Linked DNA regions of Homo sapiens: regions 1 and 3 are each linked to region 2. The links come from fine-mapping of genetic effects on gene expression. A gene starts in region 2. Each other region holds a variant in brackets. All regions are shown on one strand. Distances are from middle to middle.

Region 1 (8,188 bases), 810 kb after region 2:
TGGTGGGCACAGTTCTGTGTGCACTCTCTGTGCCACAGGCAGGGGTGGTTTCTCAGGGTGGGGGAGTGTCTGCTGTTCCCTGTGCCCAGTTTCACTGCCATGGCAGTGTTGATTCAAGGGAGTGGCACTGGAGGGGGCAGGGCTGGCTGGCTCTGTGCCTGCCAAAGCTGTGACTGCAATAATGGTCCAGCCGGGGTAGGGGGAAGTGGAGTGAATCCACCACCGCAGTGGCAAGGGAAGGTGACCACACACATGCATGCTGGTGAGGCAAGGAAGGCAAAACCTGCCTGTGGACACACGCAGCAGCAAAGTGATGTGGGGAATTCCTGTGAGCTCAGAGGAAGCTGTAGTATGGGAAATGAGTGGGCAGGCTGGCATATGGCTGTGGGGGCCACCCTGCTGGAGCTCTTCACTAGTCAAAAACAGTCCACCAGCACAGAAGCTATGATACAGGCCCCGAGGGCACCCAAGGCTTCCCTGCAAGCAGGCCCAGCCAGGCTAGGGCCCAGGGAGAGGCCAGCAGATCAAGGGGTACTCAGGTGGGACCGACCTCACAAGATGGCCCTGAAGAGTTCAGGCGTAACAATTCCCCTAAAGCTAAAGGAGCAAATAGAGCCTAGGGAGATGGGCTTTCCTGGCCTTACACCACTACAGATGCTCCCACACAAAACCCTCTGGGCTCCACCTCAACTGGCATGCTGCCCCTACCACTTCTCTAAGCACCTCTCCCTGCCAACTCAAGTGTTCATGGTGGTTGAGGGGTCTCCTACTGCTGAAATTCCAGAGGCCCATGGCAAGATTGGATTGCTCCTTGCCAGTTCAACTCACCCATTCCCAGGGGTCACTGGGGGCCAGAAACAAGTCCTGGTGTGGGGTAGCCCCATGCAGAGTTCCCAGCTTCCTCCCCCTTCAGACCAGCTGCTATGTCTTCCTTCTATTTATTCTCCATGCCTTCTCTCTGAATATATGTTAGGAGTGTACCAGTCATCTTGGTCTCTTGGTGGCAGCTTTTCCACCTGGCTGTATGTAGTCAGCCATCTCCTATTTCTTTTTTAAAATGACTTATAGCTTTGAATTTTCAATAAGTCTTGGGGCTTCCAACTAATTAGTCTAAACTAGTAGGATATGATTATTCAATAAATCAAGTATCTGTTGAGCAACAACAATGATATTGACTGGATTACAACCCAATTACAAACCCAAACATAATGGCTTCTCCTGGTATTAAAATTCAAGATGTCTAGGCCAGGCATGGTGGCACATGCCTATAATCCTAGCACTATGAGAGACCAAAGCAGGAGAATTGCCTGAGATCAGGAGTCCGAGACCAGCCTGGGAAATATGGTGAAACCCCATCTCTACAAAAATACAAAAATTAGCCAGCCTGTATTTCCACCTACTTGGGGGGCTGAGGCAGGAGGATCATTTGAGTTTGTGAGGTGGAGGCAATGAGCCAAGATCACACCACTGCACTCCAGCCTGGGTCACAAAGTGAGACCCTGTCTCAAAAAAAAAAAAAAAAAAAAAATTCAATGTGTCTAAATAAAAAATGGACATTATTCTGGAACTTTAGTGCACTTAATAATTACCTAAGGTGGTGTAGATTCCTAGCCAACAATCCAGATTCTGCTTCAAGAGGTTTAGGGTAGACCCCAGGAAATTACATTATTAAACAAGCATCCTGAAATAATTCTGATACAGTTTGTCCAAAGACTACAATGAAGAAAGCTTAATATAAGAAAGAAGGCTATTTTCTTTAAAAATGGGCAAACATCCCAGCTATACTTTTACACCAAATATCCAGACAATTATGATTGAAGTTATTTATTTTGGGGTTTGTTACATTCATGTGTGGCCTCATATCATCAGTTTGGAAATGTTGCTGGTAGTCTTTTGTGTTAGCTATAGTTTTGTCTGCTCAACGTGCTCCTCTCCCACCCCATTCCCCCTCTGGTAACCGAAAATTATTGTTGGGCTGACTGCTCTCTGTGACCATAGGAGTAGTAAGATGACTTAGACTTTTCAAATAGGAGTGTCCAATCTTCTTGGACAAAATGTTTAGTCCAGGAATGAGCAAGTGACCTAAGTTTCTCAATGAGGGAAGATTCTAGGACTCTTGTTGGACCTTAATAAATTTCTTCCTATCTTTGCAATTTGAGAGATGTAATGTAAGCCTGTACCTGCTACTACTGTGGGAAGAGATTTTTCCAGAGGATGAAGCACACACAGAGGAAATCAGAATAAAGAAGAGAAAGAGAAAGCCATTCCTTGAGGGTCTGGCATCAATTCTGCTTGAAGCTCTGAACCTTCCAACTCCACAAAACAAGATTTCTGTCTTCTTTAAATAGTCTGAGTTTGTTCATCTTTCATGAAACTGAAATTGTCATAACATAACTTACCTTTGACTAACATTTCTATCTGCTTCACTCACACTACCAGACCTATGCTCCTGGACACACACACACACACGCACACATGCACACACACACACATCCCTTTTAGCAGTTCTGGAAATAGCTTCTATTTAAAAACGCATATTGAATATCCCTTTCTTAGCTCTTAATACAAATTTATAAAAAAATATAATTTTAACAAAAATAAGTTATAACAAGTAATGTCCATATATAATTTATGCAAGATTAAAATTCCACATTTTAATCCAAACCCTACTCTTTTGAACGCTCATTATCTCAACTTTAATAACTGAAAAGTTAGGGAACACATTTGTTTCAGCTCCCCAATGTTCTATACTGTTTCTAGTGTTCCAAACTCTCTAACTTTTCTTAAAGCTCTAGTTGTTTTTGTTTCCAGCAGTCATTTCAGAACCTGAGGATATCCTTCTGAATTCTGGCACATCCTCATCTATTCTGAGTGCCTTAGTTCACACTATGATACTCTGCTTACAATACCTTAACTCTGGAAGAGAAGAAACAAAATTGTAATTTCTTTCTTCTTGTATTGCTTCCTTATTAAAAAGGCATGACTCCTCCCTAATCCCAGAACCTGGGAAGGCTTCTCCCATTCATCCATTAAAAAACCCTCTTAGTGGTAACAAACAC[G/A]CTGATTACAGAACGAGTGTCCCTTCTTCACCAATCCTAGCTCTTTGCAGTTATACATTTACACACCCATGTGCTTCATTTCATTTCTCTTACTCTCCCTCCATTCTTATAGACACAAAGTTTTAGAAATAAGATGATTTGTCTGTGGGATTCGCTATTTTGCATGTTTACAATAATAGAAAAATAAATGTGATTCAATAGCATTCATTCTCATGTGAATTTCAGTTCATCATACTTCAAATTAATGAGAGCCATCTATGACAAACCCACAACAATCATCATACTGAATAGGCAAAAGCTGGAGGAATTCCTCTTGAAAACTAGCAAAAGACAAGATTGCCCTCTCTCACCAGTCCTATTCAACATAGTACTGGAAGCCCTAGCCAGAGAAATCAGGCAAGAGAAAGAAATAAAACACATCCAAATTGGAATACAGGAAGTCAAAATATCTCTGCAGATTATATGATTATATACTTAGAAAACCCCATAATATCTTCCCAAAAGCTCCTTGATCTAATAAACAAGTTTAGCAAAGTTTCAGGATAGAAAGTTAATGTACAGAAATCAGTAGCACGTCTATATAGCAACAATATCCAAGCTGGGAAAGCCAAATCAAGAACACAATTCCATTCACAAAAGACATAAAAAGGATAAAATACCTAGGAATACAGTTAAACAGGAAAATGAAAAATCTCTATAATGAGAATTAGAAAACACTGCTACAAGAAATCAGAGTTGACACAAATGGAAAACCATTCCCTGCTCATTGGTAAAAGAATCAATATTCTTAAAATGGCCATACTGCCAAAAGCAATCTACAGATTCAATGCTACTTGTATCAAACTACTGATAAAAGACTTAAGAAAAAATTACTTAGGCAGATAGATAGTGAGGGCACAAATGTCCTCAGTAATGTTTTCCTTTTAATGTAAAGCAGCCCCAAATCATTTTCTTTTCTAACAAAGAGCAGCCTGTAAAATCGAGCTGTAGCCATAGATGCCAGCAGCTGTGCTAATCATGTTCAAAATGGTGGCCCCAGCTTCCCTTCTCTTTATCAGCCACGTGTACAGTAAGGAGCAGAATAGATAGCAGTGGTCAATGGGAGAGTTCATTTGCATAATAAGAGTAGGGTGGGGCAGCCAGCCTTCCCCATGCACTATGTAAATGTCATAACTGATCAAACCAATCTGTGAGTCCTATGTAAATCAGACACTACCTCCTCAAACCTAACTATAAGATCCAGCACATCCACTGCCCACTGGTCCTTTCTGCTTGGAGACCTCTCTCTATAGAGAGAGCTGCTTCTCTTTCTCTTCTCTTATGCCTATTAAACCTCTGCTCCTAAACTCCTAATGTGTCTCTGTGTCCTAAATTTTCCTGGTGTGAGACAACAAACCCAGGGTATATACCCCAGACAACATATCCACTTCATACTGGGGGCTCGTCCAGGATATCAAGGTACAACATTCATCGTAACAGTGAGTAGAGGAGTAGACTTCAACTCTGTCTTTTCATTTTGAGATTCTTGGCCTCCATTTTAGAACCAAATCAAACCAAATACTAGTCCCCTTTCAGTCATTTAAAAATGATTAGTGTGGCTGCCAGCCTTACAAGATTTGGGGGACAGGCTTAATGGGGAGAACATGGAGAATTCCCCAGCACCCATGGGTTGCTGGGCATCTTGGCCATGTTTGAACCAGCTTCCTTTCATAGAGGAATTAGCTGTCATGTGGAGCTGGAAGAAGTCCTGAGGTAACTGAGGATTTCTGGCTGAGGCTATCCCCAGTGTTATCCAAAGGCTTCTGGACTGACCCCTGCCTCCAACTGCCTGATGGGATTTTGGCAATAGGATCTCCAACTTTCCTATTGTAATTACCTCCTTTCCTGTTTGCAACTGCCATATCTCTTATCCTCTCTGTGTATGCAATGTGCAGGAAGTTTTAGAGTTCAGGGAAGTAATCTTGTTTGGCAAGATCAGGGAATGTCATAGTAACTGGGGATATAGCTCAAGGGAGGGCACCTTTGTGATTTTCTAGGAACAGAGGGTCCCCACCCACCACAGTGAGCATCACTCTCTGCCCTTGGTCTGGAGAGCACATGGCATTTCAAGGTCAACAGACCCACCTAGTGGAATAGAGATCCTCTCCATGAGGCACATTTTTGGTCCTTTCCTGAAACACTCTAGCTTCCCAATTCTCCCTTTTTTTTTGCCCCTTTACCAGAGACCAGGTTTTATGCTGCTTCTGTGAACAGGAAAACTTTACCTTCAACAATTGGGAGTAAAATGTTCTCTGGAACCAAATTTTACTCTTGATACTGTCCCATCAGCAGGAAAATGGCCATTCAGCCCCTACATTTTTAAAGCATCTATTCTGCCTCCAATTTAAATGGTAATTAATAAATAAGGGCATTTAAAGTTCAGAAGTTAACCAGGACCATTCTCTAAGGGCAAATGCTTTAGCATGGGCCATAAAAGCAGGATATAGAGCTGAAACCAGCACACTTCCTCCAGTAAGGAGGGAAATGCAACTGTCACATAGTCTCTCCTGAGATCCATTTTTCAGGGAGTCAGGCAGGTCACACAAGTCTAAGAAGTCAAACAGAGATCACAGACAGATGACCAGAGCCACATGGGTGAGCATGACTAATCTTAATCACTTAGTTCCTTTGGTTCCATGGCTGGAGTTCATGCCTGCAGCCATGGGCAGCACATTTAACAAGGTGCCAGTACCCAGGAACCGTGGAGGGGAAACAGCAGGGAGGATGCCCCTGCTCTCTTCCTCAACACCCTGGGTCACACCAAAAGGAAGGAGACTAAAAGGACTCCTTTTTCTCACATCTCTTTCAAGATGGGTAACAGACCATCTTCAGCTTGCACTCCTGGAGTGCATTCTGAAGCACAGGAGCTCCTTTGACCCTGAGATTTTGAAGAAAAAGTGGCTCATTTTCTTTTGCACAAGGGCAAGGCCTTCTTACTAGACCTTTGTAAGCATTGCACAATCAACCCAGCTCTTTTAGCAGCCATATCAGGCAGACCTATAAAGAATGATTCACCCAAATTAGAGAAACAACTTCCAGGGGCACCATCTGAGGATCCCCCTTATTTGGGGCCCCATTGAGTTCCCTTCTCATTAAAGGACCTTGTTCAAATAAAGGGAGATTTAGGCCAATTTTCTAATGATGCTGATAAGTATATAGAAGCTTTCCAAAATTTAACTCAGGTTTTTGATCTCTCATGAAGGGACGTTAGGATGCTCCTAAGCCAAACCCTAACTGCAGCTGAAAAACCGGCAGCTCTGCAATCAGGAGAGAATTTTGGAGATGAGCAATATCTCTCCTATAGTAGGCCAAAAGGGAAAAGAAAAAATAGGGAAGGCAAAGAAATAGGAGAAACACATTCCCAATAGGAAGAGAGGCAGTCTTGATGACCCTAATTGAAACCCCCAGACTTTTCTATGGTATTTTTCCTTCTTTCATGGTTTAAAATGGCTTTATCTCCTTTCATAATGCTCTTCCAACCTTGGAAAAGTTAAATTTGCAAACCTTAAAATGCTTGGCTTAGAGTTGAGCTATGGGGAAGGGAACCCAGAAGCCTGACATGCTGGCAAAAGGGTAAAAATTTCTTACCAGTTGGCCTTTTTGTTTCTCTCTCCCTGTGAAAACTGGTAAAAGAAATAATAAGGATCATTGTTTATATTCTTAAGTTTTAATTGATGAAAAAGTATTTGCAAGGTTGTTCTTAAGCTGTAGCCAATCTGGTGTACTTTGTGTGTCTTTCTGTATGGTTCTGTCAAAAGAAAGGATACCTTAGGTTAGGATACAGGCGTAGGACTCCATAAACCTGCTGTTCAAGCCAGCCCAACAAAATAGTCAATAACAAACACGTCAACAGGTCTCCATCTTGTTACATGTTCTTGGCAAAATGACCTGTAACCACGTGGCAATACTTTATTTTAGTCTCTGCCATTTTACAATGGTGGCTGTCTTCTTGTGCTAAGTCAGTTCCTTGGGTGAGGACCATAAAATCAGATAAGCCAGTTTATCAATAGGGGAGGGGCCAGCTAATCCATCAAAGGCAGGGTTTACAAAATACCTTAAGCACTGATCTTGAGAGTAGTTAAGGGAGAGTCAAAATCTTGCAGCCTCCACCTACGTTATTCCTAAGCCACGGTTTCTAATCTTGTGGAGAGTTTCTTGGTCTGTTCCCCAGGCAAAAGGGAAGCTGTCTTAGGAAGGCGTTGTTATCACCTTTGTTTTGGACTATAAACTGTAAACCAGGCTCCTCCCAATGTTGGTTTGGCCTATGTCCAGGGATGGGCAAGCTTGGGGGCTGAAAACAAAATGGAATTGGTTGGGTCGAATCTCTTTCACTTTCTCAGTCACAATTTTGCAATAATGGTTTCAAAAGCTGCTTATCACCCCTTTGAAAATACCTCATACATTCGTGGTTAAGTCATAACCTAATTATGGCTTGTTGGTTTCACCGGTTAGGTTACCTTTTGTGAAGCTCAAAAGCCAAAAATCTTAACTCTCAGCATGGCTAAAGTAGAGTAACAAGGGATTTAAAAGGATTTTCTTAAAGAGTGCTCAGCTTAATTAAAAGTGTATATTCAAGTTGTAGGTATATTTAAAAGGCCTTTATGTTTTTCTCTTCTTGGATCTTGCTTTTCTGGAAAAAGTGTTTTTTTTTAAATTTTCAGTCAATTGAATTATTTTTCTCCATTTTTTGTCTTGCCACTCATAATGCACACAAGAGAGGTCCTAAGATAACTTCTGGTAGCCTGGGACTCCTTGGGAAACAAAACCCTATTTTCCTCATGAAACCCCAGGAATTAGAAGCAGATAATTCATTCTCAAATTTAAAGGCTCTGTTCTGTTTTGCATTGTGTTATCTAACAGTTTTGATAACTAGGTAGGAAATATACCTTAAGCGATGGCTAATAGTAGTTATGGAGGAATACTTAACTCTTTGCACATTTAAATCAGAGAAGCATGCTCTTGGTCACCAGAAGATATGGAAACATCCCTACCCCACACTAAGAGATGAGACTCCCACAGGGGATGGGCTGATTACAAAATAAGCCAAACTGGCTTTGGGTTGCCTTCCAATGAAATGCATGGTAGAAGCA
Region 2 (8,188 bases):
CAGGTGATTCCCAAATACACTAACTTTTGGAACATCTGGTCTGGCTCAGCTCCTTCAAGATTCTGCCTTTAGAGGCCAAGATTTTATTTTGATGCTAATACTTTCCATTATACAAAGCTGCCTTTTGTGCCCAAAGCAATTAGTGGCAATTGATAAACTTACAATAATAAATCAAGGAATATTTAAGAATAAATAACCTAAAAGAAAATCCAAATTCTTTATATAGATCTGGTTCCTGCCAGACTCTTCTATCACTTTCTGCCTTACTTATGGTGCTCCAGTAAGTTTATTCTCACCTCACGGTCTTTGCATTAGTTGTTCCTTCTGCTTGGAGTGCTCAAACATTAACATGAGTAGACTCACGTTTTACTCAAGACTGCTGAAACATCTGCTCCTTCAAGAGGTATTCCCAATCTAAAGTAACTTTCACCCCAAACCAGAGACTAAATACTATAGTCACTCTCTGTAGTATTTATCAGCATTTAAAATAATCTTAATTTATTTACTGTCTTAGTCAAAATATACTTAAGCTCCCTGGGACCAGGGATTGTGTCTGTGTTGTTCATTGCCTCAAGCCCAGTATATATTTTTTCTGACTTTTTAAATATTTCTGCCACTAATTGGGACATCACATAGACATATTCTGAGAATTACACTTCTTTTTATTCTCATACACAATAGTTCCATGTCCTATAGATCATTCTTACGTAAAGTCAAAGCATTTAGTTGACAAAAACATGCCAGTCATAAGCTTCCATATTTGTGGATAAGGTCATAAAAGCATTGAATGCATTCCATTGATTTATTCTTGATTGTTCATATAGGAAAAGATGAGTGTAAGGAAATTATGAATTTTTTTCTATTTTTGGATTGAAAAAGTTAATATTGTTTTTATTTATTTACTTTTTTAAAAACTTTTATTTTAGGTTCTTGGGTACATGTGCAGGTTTGTTATATAGGTAAAATTGTGTTATAGGGGTTTGTTGTACAGATTATTTCATCACCCAGGTACTAAGCCTAGCACCAAATAGTTATTTTTTCTGACCCTCTCCCTCCTCCCACCCTCTACCCTCAAGTGGGCCCCAATGTCTGTTGTTCCCCTCTTTATGTTCACATGCTCTCATCATTTGGCTCCCGCTTATAAGTGAGAGCATGTGATATTTGGTTTTCTGTTCCTGCATTAGTTTAAAATAAAGGCCTCCAGCTCCATCTATGTTGCTTCAAAGGACATGATATCATTCTTTTTTTGGCTGTGTAGTATTTCATGGCATATATGTACCACATTTTCTTTACCCAGTCTATAGTGATTGGGCATTTACGTTGATTCCATGTCTGTTATTGGGAATAGTGCTGCAATAAACATATGTGTGTATGTGTCTTCATGATAGAACCATTTACATTCTTTTGTGTATTTACTCGGTAATGGGATTGCTCAGTTGAATGGTATTTCTGTTTCTAGCTCTTTGAGGAATTGCCACACTGCTTTCTATAATCGTTGAACTAATTTACACTCCCACCAACAGTGTATTAGTGTTCCCTTTTCTCTGCAACCTCACCAGCATCTGTTATTTTTTTGACTTTTTAATAATAGCCATTCTGACTGGTGTGAGATGGTATCTCATTGTGATTTTGATTTACATTTCTCTAATGATCACTGATATTTAACTTTTTTTCATATGCTTGTTGGCCGCATGTATATCTCCTTTTGAGAAGTGTCTGTTCATGTCCTTTGCCCACTTTTTAATGGGGTTGTTTGATTTTCTTGTAAATTTGTTTAAATTCCTTACAGAAGCTGGATATTATTTTCTCCCATTCTGTAGGCTATCTGTTTATTGATGGTTTCTTTTGCTGTGCAGAAGCTCTTTAGTTTAATTAGATCCCATTTGTCAGTTTTTGCTTTTGTTGCAATGATTTTGGTGTCTTTGTCATGAAATCTTTGCTAGTTCCTGTGTCCAGAATGGCATTGCCTAGGTTGTCTTTCAGGGTTTTTATAGTTTTGAGTTTTACATTTAAGTCTTTAATCTATCTTGAGTTAATTTTTTATTATAGTATAAGGAAGGGGTCCAGTTTCAGTCTTCTGCCTATGGCTCACCAGTTTTCCCAGCACCATTTATTGAATAGGGAGTCCATTATTGGGTATATACCCAAAGGAATATAAGTCATTCTACTATAAAGACACATGCATGGGTCTGCTCATTACAGCACTATTCTCACTAGCAAAGACATTGACTCAACCTAAATGCCCATCAACAGTAGACTGGATAAAGAAAATGTGATACATATATACCATGGAATACTATGCAGCCATCAAAAACATAAAAAAGAATAAGATCATATCCTTGGCAGCACCATGGGTGGAGCTGGAAGCCATTATCCTCAGTGAACTAGTGCAGGAACAGAAAACCAAATACTGCAGGTTCTGACTTATAAGTGGGAACTAAATGGTGAGTATGCATAGACATAAAGATGGAAACAATAGACACTGGGGCCTACTTGACGGTGGAAGGTGGAAGGAATGTGAGGATTGAAAAACTACCTATCAAGTGCTATGCTTATTACCTGGGTGAGGAAATAATCTGTATGTCAAACCCACTTGACATGCAATTTTCCTGTATAACAAACCGGCACATGTACCCAAACCCAAAATAAAAGTTAAAGTTGGAAAAGAAGCAACAACAACAACTACAACAACAAAACATGGGTGTTATTGAAATTCCTGAAATTTTTGGGAAATAAGATTGTTATAAATTTATTCTAAGCTTATTCACAATTTTAAGACTTTTCTTATTTGCCTGTTGATTATTGTGAAATAAACCTGACTGATATTAAAATCAATAAAAAGTGTGCATCAATCAGTTATGAACAAAGTTAGCTTGACAAATCTAGGTATACCATTTATTTAATATGCAGAAATGTTAAATTTGGATGAAATTATTGACAAATACACAGAGGTTAAGGCTCAAAAACAGAAACTGTAATATTATTATTCATTCCTGTGGCAGACCACTATGTAGATATAAGTATTTTTCCTTTGAAAAATACATTAATGCAATTAAAACACCTTGATCCATTTTTTTCCTTTTTTGGTTCTGTACTATTTATTTTGCATTTTATTTTTATATTGGCATATATATGTATGTATATGTTTATATTAAGTTCAATAAAAGAAAATAGTCACTCAATGTTTCTTTTGTAGCCAGTATTATTAGTTTCATTTCATCATTATTTCTTAAAATAATTTTGTCATTTACAGGACAGTTCTGTTAAAAAGGATCTGTTTTGGGTATGAAATGTGATAGGTATCAACTAATGCCTAGTATATAGTTTGCACATAATAAATATTTGTTGATTGAATGAATGAATACATGAATTAATATTGGGACTGTTAATGGGCATATTATGAGCATCTTCTTTCCTCAGAATCCTTCAGGGAGGCCTACAGCAGACCTTGCTCCTGTTGTGAATATTGCAATATACCCTTAGTATATTCTCCTGATAGCACCAAAATCATCCTTTAAAAATGTAAATTAGATCACATCACACCTTTGCTCAAAATCCTCCAATGATTTCCCATCTTATTCAGCATAAAATCCAAATTTATTTTGGCGGCACGAAAGCCCCTACACTGTGTTACTTCGCTACCTCTGAAATTATTGCTCCAGCCTCACTGGACTTTTTCATTGCTGTTCCTTCCGTATGCAACCCTCTTCTCTAAATTCCTCCAGGACTTTTATCAAATGAGCTTATCAGAGTCTTTCTCTCATTGATATAAACCAGTAAACTCCCACCTCATTCCCATACTGTTTTATTTTCCTTCATAGCATTTGTCTCTTTTTTAAAATTTATTATTTATTTTTATTTATTTATTTATTTTTTTGAGACGGAGTCTCGCTCTGTCGCCCAGGCTGAAGTGCAGTGGCGCGATCTCCGCTTACTGCAAGCTCCGCCTCCCGGGTTCACGCCAGTCTCCTGCCTCAGCCTCCCGAGTAGCTGGGACTGCAGGCGCCCGCTACTACGCCCGGCTAATTTTTTTTGTACTTTTAGTAGAGACGGAGTTTCACCGTGTTAGCCAGGATGGTCTCGATCTCCTGACCTCGTGATCCGCCCGTCTCGGCCTCCCAAAGTGCCAGGATTACAGGCGTGAGCCACCGCGCCGGCCTCATTTGTCTCTTTTACTCCTGTAATCATAAGCTCTGTGAGGAAGCCACTATGTTTTGTCTATGCCCCGAACAACTGCCCGGCACAGAGTATGCTCTCCGTGACTTAGTTTTAGAATGAATGAACTTACCCATGTTTCGCAGAGGTAATAAGTTGTTTTTCTTACTATATAATTAATTATTAAAGCAGCTACATTTGGGTATTAAGTCCTTATCTGGACATATCACATATGCCCGAAACAAAATAATTAAAAGTTCTGCACCCAGGAAAATAACTCCCAACTGGACTATTGATAATGTTCTGGAAGGCTTTATCTGGGACCGGGAGGGTCAACCACAGGGGTGAACAGTTTCTCCAGAAGACAGCTGACCGAAACCGCAGCAGTTGCCAAGGCGGCTGGAGGAGGGCGGAGAAAAGGCGGTAACTGGCAGGCAAGGGGCGTAACGGGGTGGGGCTGTCCTAAGGGAAGCCTAGTCGAACTGATTTGTCCCTCTCTGCTCTCCGTCTGAAAACCTTGGCCGAAAGGGTTGTAGACATGGCGGCCATCAGGGTAAGCGAAAACCAACTTGCTTAATTTCTGTGGGTGCCGATAGCATCCCGGTAACTGTAAAAGGGATCCTACTAACTTCTGAAGGAGCCCTGAAACAAGGGGCAGGGTGGAGGTGGGTTTTGAGATAATTGCAATCTTTATCGTTTGAAGCCTCAAGACACCTGCCTTTCCCCATTAGGGTTTTATCAGCCTGGGACGCTGCTCCCTCAATCCCCTGTGGTTGTCGATTTACACAGTGGCACAGTACAAAACTGGGAAACGGCTGGGTGAAAATGGCTGGCCAGGCGACGAGCCGCAGTAGACGTTTCGGTCTTCAGCTGCAATAAAGAGAAAAATATATATATAAACTTGGCATTTGTCTCGGCGCACAGGGCAAGGCCACATGACCCTATGGAAGGACTTTGTTGAAACATTTGGGGTGAAACTGACCAGGATAGAGAGGTCCCATAGTCTTTCAGCAGTGCGCTGGTTTACACATAGTGTTGTTGCTTTCTGTGCTCGAATAACCTGTTCCTTTCGAGTTTTACGCTTGGGAAAGGTGCCTTTACTTGGGAGTCCGTGTACAGTGAGTGACTCAGCTGGCAGCTTGCTGCAGTTCCCTAAGTAGTGTTTAATAATGGTAGTCTACAGATATTTACGTAGCGGGTTTTAATTGTAAAATATTCTGTTAGGCTTGCAGGAGATACAGTATGAATAATTCAGTTCCGCTGAAGTTTTAAGTCGGCAGCGTCTACAGTTCTGGTTCTCATACTTCATCTGAGTTATTTGAACAACCTCCTACCTGAACTTGCCACCTCAAGCCTGGCTCTCATGTAATCTGTTTTCCTCTGTGTTGCCAGAGTACATCTACCAAAATGCAAATTTGATTTTTGCCTCCCCCCGCATTTAAAAAATTTTATGGGCATGTCATCATCTCCCCTCTGGGGTCAGGCCATACTCTTATGTCTAGAACATCTGATTTTACCTAGACTTTCCAGCCTCATCTCTTGTCACTCAGGAACCCTCCTCCTGTCGATACTGAGCTGCTTGCTTGACCCCGCCATGCTTTTTTACGTGCTCTTTCTCTGGGCCTAAAGTGCCTTTTCCCATGCTTATCTAGTTGTATTTATAGTTCATTCATTCATTCAGCAGCTATTTGTGTACAGCCTCCCCATATGCAAAACACAAAAATGCCTTGTTTAATAGTGTCCTTGATCTCCCCAGTCTATTTTATTTTATTTTATTTTTTATTTTTGAGACGGAGTCTCTCTCTGTCTCCCAGGCTTGAGTGCAGTGGCGCGATCTCAGCTCACTGCAACCTCCACCTCCCGGGTTCAGGCGATTCTCCTGCCTCAGTCTCCTGAGTAGCTGGGACTACAGGCGCATGCCAACCATGCCCGGCTAAATTTTTTTATTTTTATTTTTTAGTAGAGACGGGGTTTCACCATGTTGGTCACGCTGGTCTCGAACTCCTGACCTCGTGATTCACCCCCCCCCCCCCCCGGGCCTCCCAAAGTACTGGGATTACAGGCGTGAGCCACCACGCCCGGTCCTCGCCAGTCTATTTTAATAACTCTTGTTTGTGCTCCCAGAGGACTCTGGGCACACTCTTAACCAAGCATTTATTCCACTGCACATATAGACTACTTACTTGTCTGTTCTAGCTACCTAAACTATAAGCTCCTTGAAGACAGTAATTATATTAACCTTTGTATCCGTAGTACCTAGCACAGGTCTGATGTATATTAGGTAGTCAACATGTTCTACATGAATAAAGTGCCAGGCAATGAGGACAGAAGAGATTAAGTGGTGGAGATATAACACATATAACACAAATGACTGTGATTCAGAGTAAGGGGAGTTTCTTACCTGAAGAGAAGTACAAAGTGCTCTGACGCTCAAAAGGAGAGAGCTCACACTTGGTTTGAAGAGAGTAAAAAGAGGCTTCATGGAGAAGGTGCAGAGACAGAAGGAATGGTCAGTGGCAAAAAGCAAACCAGAATAGTGTGTTTTCATTGAGAAGAAGAGAGTTGAACAGTCCTTTGATTTCACCATTAATAAGTTGCTGCTGTTATCATTTATTAAGTGCTTACTCCAGGCCAGGCACTATGCTAAAACACGTTACATGTGTTAATTCACTAATTCTCAAGACAACTTTATGTGGTGGGTATTATTACCATTTTACACATGAAAATTAAGGTTTAGAGAAGTCAGATTATTCAAAACCATGCTAATAAGAGCTGAAGTGAGCTAAAGAGATAAATAGAGTGGTAGAGGAACAACCAAGATTGTATGGGGTTAAGAAAAGAATAAGGGATGGAGAACTGGCATTCATTTAGCACCCACTTTGGCCAGATGATTTACATATATTATTTTAGTTTAATCCTCTTGATGACCCTAAGAAATGGGTAATATATCCATTTTACAGATGGAAAAACGGAGGCTTAGAAAAACTGCTTGCTCCAGGTCATACAACCACTAAGTGGAAGAACTAGGTTCAAACAGTATATTTATCTCCAAAGTCTTTCCACTCCTCCTTGCTTCCTCTGGAAAGGAGTTATACATTACTCTTTAGAGAAGTTTGGTGGTGAAAAGAAGGAACAAAATCTTGGAATGAGGGTAGCAAATTCCAGAAAAGGTGTCTTTTAATTAAAAAAAAAAAAAACTAAAAACAAAACAGGAGACAGAAGACTTGAGCTACTTTGGAGACAAGGGAAAATGTACCAGGAGGTATCTAGAGGGAAAGATAATAGTATTTACAGCTATTGTGTTATTGAATATTGACTACGTGCTAGGAATTTTGCTAAGCACTTTATGTGGATTCTCTCATTTATGTTTCACATTGGCCCTATGAGTAGGAATTTATATTAATCACTTTTTACAGGTAGGGAAACAGAAGCTTAAAAAGGTCAAGTAACTCCAAGGTCACACAGGAGTAAAGTGGTAGAGCTGGATCTGAAATCACATGGTATGAGTCCTGAACCTGGACTCTTAACCATACTTTGTAAGAAAGTGGTAAAATCAAGAGAACAAGTGGAGGGATTAACCTTGCAAAGAGGAGACACACTTTGCTTCAAAGGCCAGAGTTGGTCGAGATAGAAGGTGAAGATACCAAGTGATTTTGAAGAACGGAGGAGGTAGAGGAGGGAGCTCACATTGGAGGTCTGTATCTTCTGGGTGGAAGGTCATCTGCTGAGAGGAAAATATGCCTTTAGGAGTTTAAGAATGGGATAGGCTTGGAAAAGGTGCTTTAGGAAATTCAGTAAAGTATCAGTAGACATTGAATAAAATATTAATAATTGCTGAGAAGTGAGGGCCTGGCTAATGTTGGCTCTAGTAGTGACTTTCTCCAGCAGTGCTCACAGCATAGGAGGGGAAGAGGAGACAGTGGGGTTGCTCCAATGCTGAGTGTTGTCAAAGTGAGAATGATAGAAGATCTAGGGAATTTATCCAAATAGTCATCCACTGTGGATAAGGAGACAAAGAAGAAGATTGAAGTGA
Region 3 (8,188 bases), 63 kb before region 2:
GTTTTGTAATTTAATCAATTATCTAATCTTAGTAGGCTAAAAAAGTTTTAATTTTCTGAAGGTAAGTTTAATCCTTAACACTTCAAATAAAAGAGAACAAAAACTACTCAGCAGGAAAAATATATGCTTAGTGTTTTACTTTCATGCACGTTTAAAATAATTTATTTGGATGCTAACAATGTTATTGACATTACATTTTCAATACATGCCAAATTTTCTCTTACCTGGAGCACAGAAGAAAAAGAGACATAGAGAAACTTCTTCAGGCCTGGCACAGTTGCTCATGCCTCTAATCCCAGCACATTGGGAGGCCAAGGAGGGCAGATTGCTTGAGTTTAGGAGTTCGAGACCAGTTTTGGCAATATGGCAAAACCCCATCTCAACAAAAACAAAATTAAAAAAAAAAAAAAGCCAGACATAATGGTGCACACCTGTAGTCTCAGCTACTTAGGAGACTGAGGTGGGAGGATCCCTTGAGCCCGGGGAGGGGGGCTGGGTGTTGAGGCTGTGGCGAGCTGTGACTGAGCCACTGCAATTCGGCCTGGGTGTCAGAGTAAGACCGTGTCTCAAAAAAAAAAAAAAAGTCTTTGCATTTAAATATGTTAATTTGTAAATTACACTAAATCTCACTTGAGAAGACTTTATAAACTCTTTTTTGAAGTGTAAAAGTTAACTTTAGTATATTACCTATGATCTACTCTTGTTAAAGGGGAGATGGAGGGATGAAGGCAATACTGTCTAATAAAACTTTCTGCAATGGCGGAAACATCCTATATCTACACAATCCAAATACAGTAGCCGCTAGCCATGCGTGGCTATTGAACATCTGAAACAGAAAGAGAGGGAGAATTTTGTTTTTACCTAGTTTTTAGTAAAAGCTTTATTGCATGGTTTGCAAACCACTTTTTAACCTTTGTATTTTAGATTTTACATGCCTCCAAGAGATCTTTACAAAATGTTTACATTATGATATGTAACTATAAAAAAAAGAATAAAATTTCTGTCCATGTCACTAGAGATCATTGATTTAGTAGAGAGCTATGCTATGAATATGTTTGATATTTGTAGATTGTTGAAACATTACCACTTAAGAAATTTCTAATCAAGAAATTCAATATTATAGTCTGTTCCTAAGAAGCAAATAGAAACTTTTATGGTAGAGATTATGTATGTAGGTCATCAATAGTGATAGCTGGAATTTTCAGAATATTAATACAGTGATCTCACACTATTATGAGCTTTTCCTATTATGGTCCAATTCACAGTTACTAATTATATTGCCTTTATTATTTTGCTTCAAATATATTTTCACCATCAAAATCAAACCCACATAATAGTAAATATTTGGGGATAAACAATAAAATCTAAGCAGGACATTATGAGACAGTCAAAATGGCCATAGTAGGATGGCAATTCTATTTCTGATTAGAATATTTAAGGTTCTTTTTTATTCAAAATGGTTACTCCCATCTTGCTCTGTTAGTCCCTACCTACCAGTTCCTCGATTTCAGTGAAATCAATTATGAAATGTTAAAATTTGTATTTGGATTAGGGAGGGAAAGATGATTGTATTCTATTGTCAGTATTTTCAGAAGCAGAATAACTGAGCTGATTTGGGGAAAAGGTTCTATCCTAGGTATCAAAAAACATAGCTTTTGCCTCGTAAAACTGCTAACACATACCCTACACGTAAAATTGAGTACTTTCAGCTTACTAAATGTTTGGCATGATTTTTAATATCGTGTTTTATGTGTATTGGGGTAAGATATTATGACTTTGTCTTGCCTCTATAGATACCATCAGGGCAAGTCTAATTCAGCTTGAAAGTTAGGCCATGAACAAGGATAATCTGGCATATATTATTAGCATTTATAAAAATATTTAGCTAAAAATATTTAGCTTTCTCATGTTAGGTATATGAAAAGCATAGCAAATATCCAACCATCCATGGTACAGCTTTCTTTCATCTCATGATGAGAAAAAAGATTCTTATATAATTTATACTGGCCTCAAATCATGATCTTCACTTGTTTTGGGTTTATACTGTCAACAAAAAGAGTCAAACTCTGTAGAATATTTGAAGAGATTTGTTCTGAGCCAAATATGAGTGACCATGGCCCGTGACACAGCCCTTAGGAAGCTGGTCCTGAGAACATGTGTCCCAGGTGGTCAAGGTGCAGCTTGGTTTCATACATTTTTATAGAGCCATGAGATATCAATCAAATACATTTAAGAAACACATTGGTTTGGTTCAGAAAGGTGGGACAATTCAAAGTGGGGGCTTCCAGGCAATAGGTAAATTTAAACATTTTCTGGTTGACAATTTGTCCAGTTTGTCTAAAGACCTGGGATCAATAGAAAGGAAATGTTCCTGATAAAATAAAACATTGTGGAGACCAAGGTTCTTTTAAAATTTTACAGTGGCTGCCCTTAGAGACAATAGATGACAAATGTTTCCTATTCCAATTTTTAATGGTGGTAGACTCTTGCTTAATCTCTTTAGGATTGGAAGGGCCTGGAAGAAAAAGATCTAGCTATGTTAATAGAGATTGTTTACAGATGCAGATTTTCCACCGCAAAGGACAGCTTTGCAGGGCCATTTCAAGATATGGCAAAGAAACATGTTTTGAGGTAAAATATTTTGACTTTCTTATTTGTCACATAATGTTATGCCAGAGTCAGACTGGAAAGTAAGTCACAACATATAGGGTTAAATAAAACCCATCTGATGAGAATTTGTGGTTTTCAGGGCATGACTCTCCAGACCCCTCAGATAGGAATTTGGGCATGATAAAAAAAAAAAAAAAATCAGAGCTTAGTCCTCAGTGCCCCCCCTTGGACAAATGTTCAGGCCAACAAACAGCAGCAGGTCCCACAGTGCTAGGAAGGCTCATTCCTAGAGTTGTCTGGTTTGGCCATCTGGCAAGGTTTCCTGGCACTAGGAAGGCTCGTTCCTAGAGCTCTCTGATTTGATGGTAATACTTTTAAATATTAAGCTGGGTGTGGTGGCTTACACCTGTAATCCCAGTACTTTGGGAGGCCAAGGCATGTGGATCACAAGTTCAGGAGTTCAAGACCAGCCTGGCCAAGACAGTGAAACCCCGTCTCTAAAAAAAAAAAAAAAAAAAAAAAAGACAAAAAAATTAGCAGAGCGTGGTGGCATGCACCGGTAATCCCAGCTACTCGGGAGGCTGAGGCAGGAGAATCACTTGAACCTGGGAGGCGGAGGTTGCAGTGAGCCGAGATCGTGCCACTGCACTCCAGCCTGGGCAACAGATTGAGACTCTGTATGAAAAAATAGATAAGTAAATAAATAAATAAATAAATATTAGCTATTTGGATCACGGGGGAGGACATGGTCTGAACCAATATAATAGCCATTTGTTTAAGGGGTGAGATGGAGTCAGGCCTAGGGTTTAGTAAAAA[T/C]AAACAAAAAAAATTCCCGGGCCAGATGTATTTTGCGAGCTATCATGATCCGGGTCCTTAATTGTACCTTTTCCTTTTGCTGTATCTGGCATAACATTTACAAGAGTTGTATAATGCTAATATAGTAAGAAATATAATAAAGATAGTGAAGATTGAGTGTCCAAGGTTATAGGTAGAATCAGAGGGCAGTAAACAACCCAATCTGCCAGAAAATCCCCTGTATGCATTATTATATTCTTGGATCAAACTCACAATGTGTTCAACCCCCTTGTTAAGGGTTATTTGAACTTTATGATAAATCTTATTTGAGGATAGTAGGAGTGACATTAAATCAGAATCCAATAAATTTAGTGTCTCTTCTAGCCAATTTATCTCTATAGGTATAACAACCTGAGGAGGGTATTAATCAATTGCAAGAAACACCCGGTCCTCAGTGTCTAAATTGTTATAGACTTGCTAACAGTAGAAAAATCTATTTTTCCCACCACTTTTGTATTGCACCATATACTGGTATTTGGGAGAGAAAAGAAGGCTTTGTCACAGGAGAAGTCATTCTACAGTGTCATTTCTTTTTGTCCCTCGGCAGGACTCCCTATGGCTGAGAGCCTTAAGAGTCAAAAGACTTATAGCCAATTAATTGTTCTAGGCCAGCTAGGAATGGATGTGGACAGGCATTTGTTACTTCTTAAAATTATTATTTTAAGTAAAAAAGCCAACAACAAAACCAAAAGGCAAAGTTACAAGACACTTATTTTTAACTTCTATGTGTTGAACTACTATAAGCTTGGTTTTTGTTACAGACTTTTAGCAATTAGCTATATAAAACATTAGCATTGTTCTGAAAAATAATTAAACATATCTATATCTATAGCTATATAGATATAGATATATTTATCTTCACAACTCATAATTGGGAGTGTTATACCCAGGAGGCTTTGTTACAAGGTATTTTTATCCGGTTATTTTACTAGTTAGTAAATATTTCCTTCTAATTCTATAGTAAGCAGAAAATTTTTATGGTCGTGGTGGATGCAAAAGTGACACATGATAGTTTAGAAGGCAATTAAACTTGTTTTACCAGATATTTAGGCATTTTTGTACCCCCTTTTAGATTTGGAGGGTTTGACCTTGACTTAGTCCCTCAAAACTGACCCTTACAATATTATGCACCCATCTCTTCCACGATAGTCCCTGGGCCTACAGCGAGGCAGCTTGTAAGGTTTTAGTAGCAGAGCATTAGCAGTGAAACAGATCTGGGCCCAGGGGGATGCCAAATGAGGGAGATTCATATCTCTGGTCTTTAGAATACCATGGCTTTGGTTTCCTTGGAAGTAAAACAAGGAGAGATAGATAACATTTATAGTTTGACAATTATAAGAGTCATTGAGGCCTGGCACCTGTAATCCCAGCACTTTGGGAGGCCGAGGCGGGTGGATCCCCTGAGGTCAGGAGTTCTGGACCAGCCTGGCCAACATGGTGAAGCCCCGTCTCTACTAAAAATACAAAAATTAGCCGGAAGTGGTGGCAGGCGCCTGTAATCCCAGTTACTCAGGGGGGCCGAGGCAGGAGAATTGCTTGAACCTGGAAGGTGGAGGTTGCAGTGAGCCGAGATCCTACCATCACACTCCAGCCTGGAGGACAAGAGCGAGGCTTCATCTCAAAAAAAAAAAAAAAAAAGAATAATTGCTATGTGAGAACAGAAAAGGAAACCTATTCAATTAGGGCACCAAATAAAAATATGAAGAAAAATTATAACGATTTAATCTGTACTCGAAAAAGTTAGGGCTGAAATCCAGTATTAAGTGTTACGTTTTTCCCTTGAAAGTATTTTTTTAGCTGCCTTTATTTAGTAAAGATAAAATTATAGCAAGGCCAATTTGTGTGCAAGGTAAGTTTTAGGCTTATTATGCTTGCCTGATTATTTGCATAAAATACATTGAGAATTGATTGACCATATAGACTCGTTTTAAGTTGGCTTTGCTGGAACTTTGCTTAAAAAGAGGCTATTTTAGTTTAAGTCTTGGTAAAATAACCAGTGTCTCCAATTGTTTTTTTTAGATAGAGTCTCGCACTGTCGCCCAGGCTGGAGTGCAGTGGTGCCATATCGGCTGACTGCAACCTCCATCTCCCGGGTTCAAGAGATTCTCCTGCCTCAGCCTCCTGAATAGCTGGGATTACAGGCGCATGCCACCACGCCCTGCTAATTTTTTGTATTTTTAGTAGAGACAGGGTTTCACTGTGTTAGCCAGGATGGTCTCGATCTCCTGACCTCGTGATCTGCCCGCCTCGGCCTCCCAAAGTGCTGGGATTACAGGCGTGAGCCACGTGCTCAGCCTGTGTTTGTGGTTTTTTTTGTTTTTTGCTTGTTTGTTTTTACTATTATTGAACTAATGCAGACAACTATAATGTCATAAAATTTCAATCTAAATTTTGGAGAGCTCAGAAAGGTAAATTTTCTTACAAAGACATACTGTACCCAAATAACTTAAAAGAAAAAGATTCTCTTGAGCTTTCTTTAACCAGAGTAGCAGCTTTTAAAACAAGATGTTTGTATACCTTTGAAATGCCATTTACAAACCAAACAGCTCCTGAGAGCTATTAGGCACTGTAGAATTTAGCAGCTCCTCACAATTAGTCCTAGGAAAGAGGCTCTCTGCTTATTAGGTAGCAAGATTTTATATAAACCATTTTTATTCTATCATGGCACTCTTTTGGGAAACATTATTTTCATTAGCATAGGGATAGCTTCAGTTAATATTTCATAGCAAGGCAGTAAATGCCCCATTAAGTAGAAATTCTCCAGTTCAGTCATTGTCATTGAAAGGTACTCACAGTTTTTGCCAACAGCCCTGATAAAAGCTCCACATAAAGGGCTATGCAGTGGAGGATTTGTCCCAACTAGCACTCCAGCTCTTACCCTATATTCTGTGCACTTAGGCACCTTACTAGTTTCCATTTAGCATGTGCAATTAAACATTTCTTAAAAGAACAGATTTATATGCCTTTAGTTTACACTGCTAGATGGGGAAACATCTAACCGTGTAAGTTTGATATAGTATCCATTTTTATAAGACTTTCAGTAAAGGGGTTACAACTACCTTATATAAAGCTTGTTTAAACATTTTAATTTTATAATTCTATGAGCCTGTATGTTTTTATGTTCCGGTCTCAGTAACCCTTTTTTTACCCCCAGACCATTTTACATTTTCTGGTGAAAAGGATTTCGGTTCCCACAGGGAGTTGCATTTGTAAGACTGATGAGGGACAGCATATTTGATAAGGCTTCTTAAACAGTCCTATTATTCTGTGGGAGGAGCTCCCATGTAAAATGGGCTCCCTTAACCCCAAAATTTACCATGACCTGGGTAATAGGCACATTTGGTGGGAAGATATCCCACTTATCATAAAGTTAGTCCAACATGGCTTGCATATGAAGCATATCAACTGCTTAATCTGGGGTGCTTCACTTAGTATTTTATAGGGAGAGTTGGGCAGTCCCCTTCTCAAGGCAAACAGACCTTACAATGGCATTATCTGGCCCACTAGGCTGATCACTTTCTTAGGAATAAACCCCTGTTAATTTGGAACAAATATACTCAGTGATGGTTAAGTGATGAGCTGTGGGTCCTGCATTAATCTAAACAAGGTCTTATATTCTGTAGCATTTAAAATTAAGAATTTTGTTCTTAAAGTGGTTATTTTTACAATCCACTATAGTAAAGATTTTTTTTAAAGAAGCTGGATGATACCAATCTACAAGATGGAACAATTCCTTTACATTACATACTTGGGTTTTAAATAGTTACTTTGTTTTACCCTTTCCCCATATGGACTATTGTCTTGGTAACCACAGGGCTCAGAGTTTTGTTGCCCTGGCTTTTTTTTTTTTTATTTATTTTGTTTTATCTGTATAATTTCCTTCATTATAAAGCAACTCTTAGTTTTTTTGTTTTTTTTTTTTTTGAGACGAAGTCTCGCTCTGTTGCCCAGGCTGGAGTGCAATGGTATGATCTCAGCTCACTGCAACCTCCACCTGGTTCAAGCAATTCCCCTGCCTCAGCCTCCCAAGTAGCTGGGATTACAGGCGCATGCCACCACGTCCAGCTAACTTTTTTGTATTTTTAGTGGAGATGGGGTTTCACCATGCTGGCCAAACTGGTCTTGACCTCCTGACCTCAGGCAATCCGCCCAACTCGGCCTCCCAAAGTACTGGGATTACAGGTGTGAGCCACCATGCCCGGCCTAACTCTTAGTTTCTTAACTGAAACAAAACTAACTTTTTTTGAAAATTGACATCCTTGTATTTATAAAATTTTTACCAAAGGCATATTTTATGCTTCTACTATTTTAACTTTTTAGTAACCCAAATTTCCAGTGGGAAAAAATCCTGAGGGTTTAATATGACTCAAAGACTTTTAAATTACAGGAGAGTTTTAGGATTAAATTTACCAAATTAATTTTACCAAAGATTACCAAGGTTATGTGAATTAAAAGGCACCTGAGCTAACTTCTACCAATATGATAAGCACTTACTTTTTTAAAAGTTACTTGATTGTAAGGGAGGAGACCACCCCTCATATTGTCTTATGCCCAATTTCTGCCTCCAAAGAAAGAAGAAGTAAAAACTAAAAGGTAGAAATGAAATCCACAGGCAGACAGCCCGGCACCGCACCCTGGGCCTGGTTAAAGATCCACCCCTGACTTAATCGGTTATGTTATCTATAGATTACAGACATTATATAGAAAGGCACTGTGAAAATCT

Direction of the effects. Alleles are on the strand shown, and positions count from the first base shown. SD is a standard deviation of normalised expression in the study named. Not every link is listed here.
As copies of T replace C in region 3, the expression in regulatory T cells of the gene that starts at base 4,658 in region 2 goes up (moderate effect, 0.45 SD a copy in Bossini-Castillo 2019).

Evidence for each region. PIP is the estimated chance that this variant, and not a neighbour inherited with it, causes the effect.
Region 1: its variant is the best candidate, but not a certain one, in a credible set for the expression of APOOL in lymphoblastoid cells (GTEx, PIP 0.77).
Region 3: its variant is the best candidate, but not a certain one, in a credible set for the expression of APOOL in regulatory T cells (Bossini-Castillo 2019, PIP 0.84).

The regions. Positions count from the first base shown.
Region 1 is chrX:85,808,030-85,816,217 of GRCh38, forward strand. No RefSeq gene overlaps it. Among named protein-coding and RNA genes, the nearest start is that of MIR1321, 24 kb to the right of the region's middle. The variant G/A (reference allele first, on the strand shown) is at 3,060.
Region 2 is chrX:84,999,220-85,007,407 of GRCh38, forward strand. It overlaps APOOL (apolipoprotein O like), which reads left to right and starts at 4,658. Exons shown (of 9, transcript NM_198450.6): 1 at 4,658-4,708. The coding sequence starts at 4,694.
Region 3 is chrX:84,936,703-84,944,890 of GRCh38, forward strand. No RefSeq gene overlaps it. Among named protein-coding and RNA genes, the nearest start is that of APOOL, 63 kb to the right of the region's middle. The variant T/C (reference allele first, on the strand shown) is at 3,427.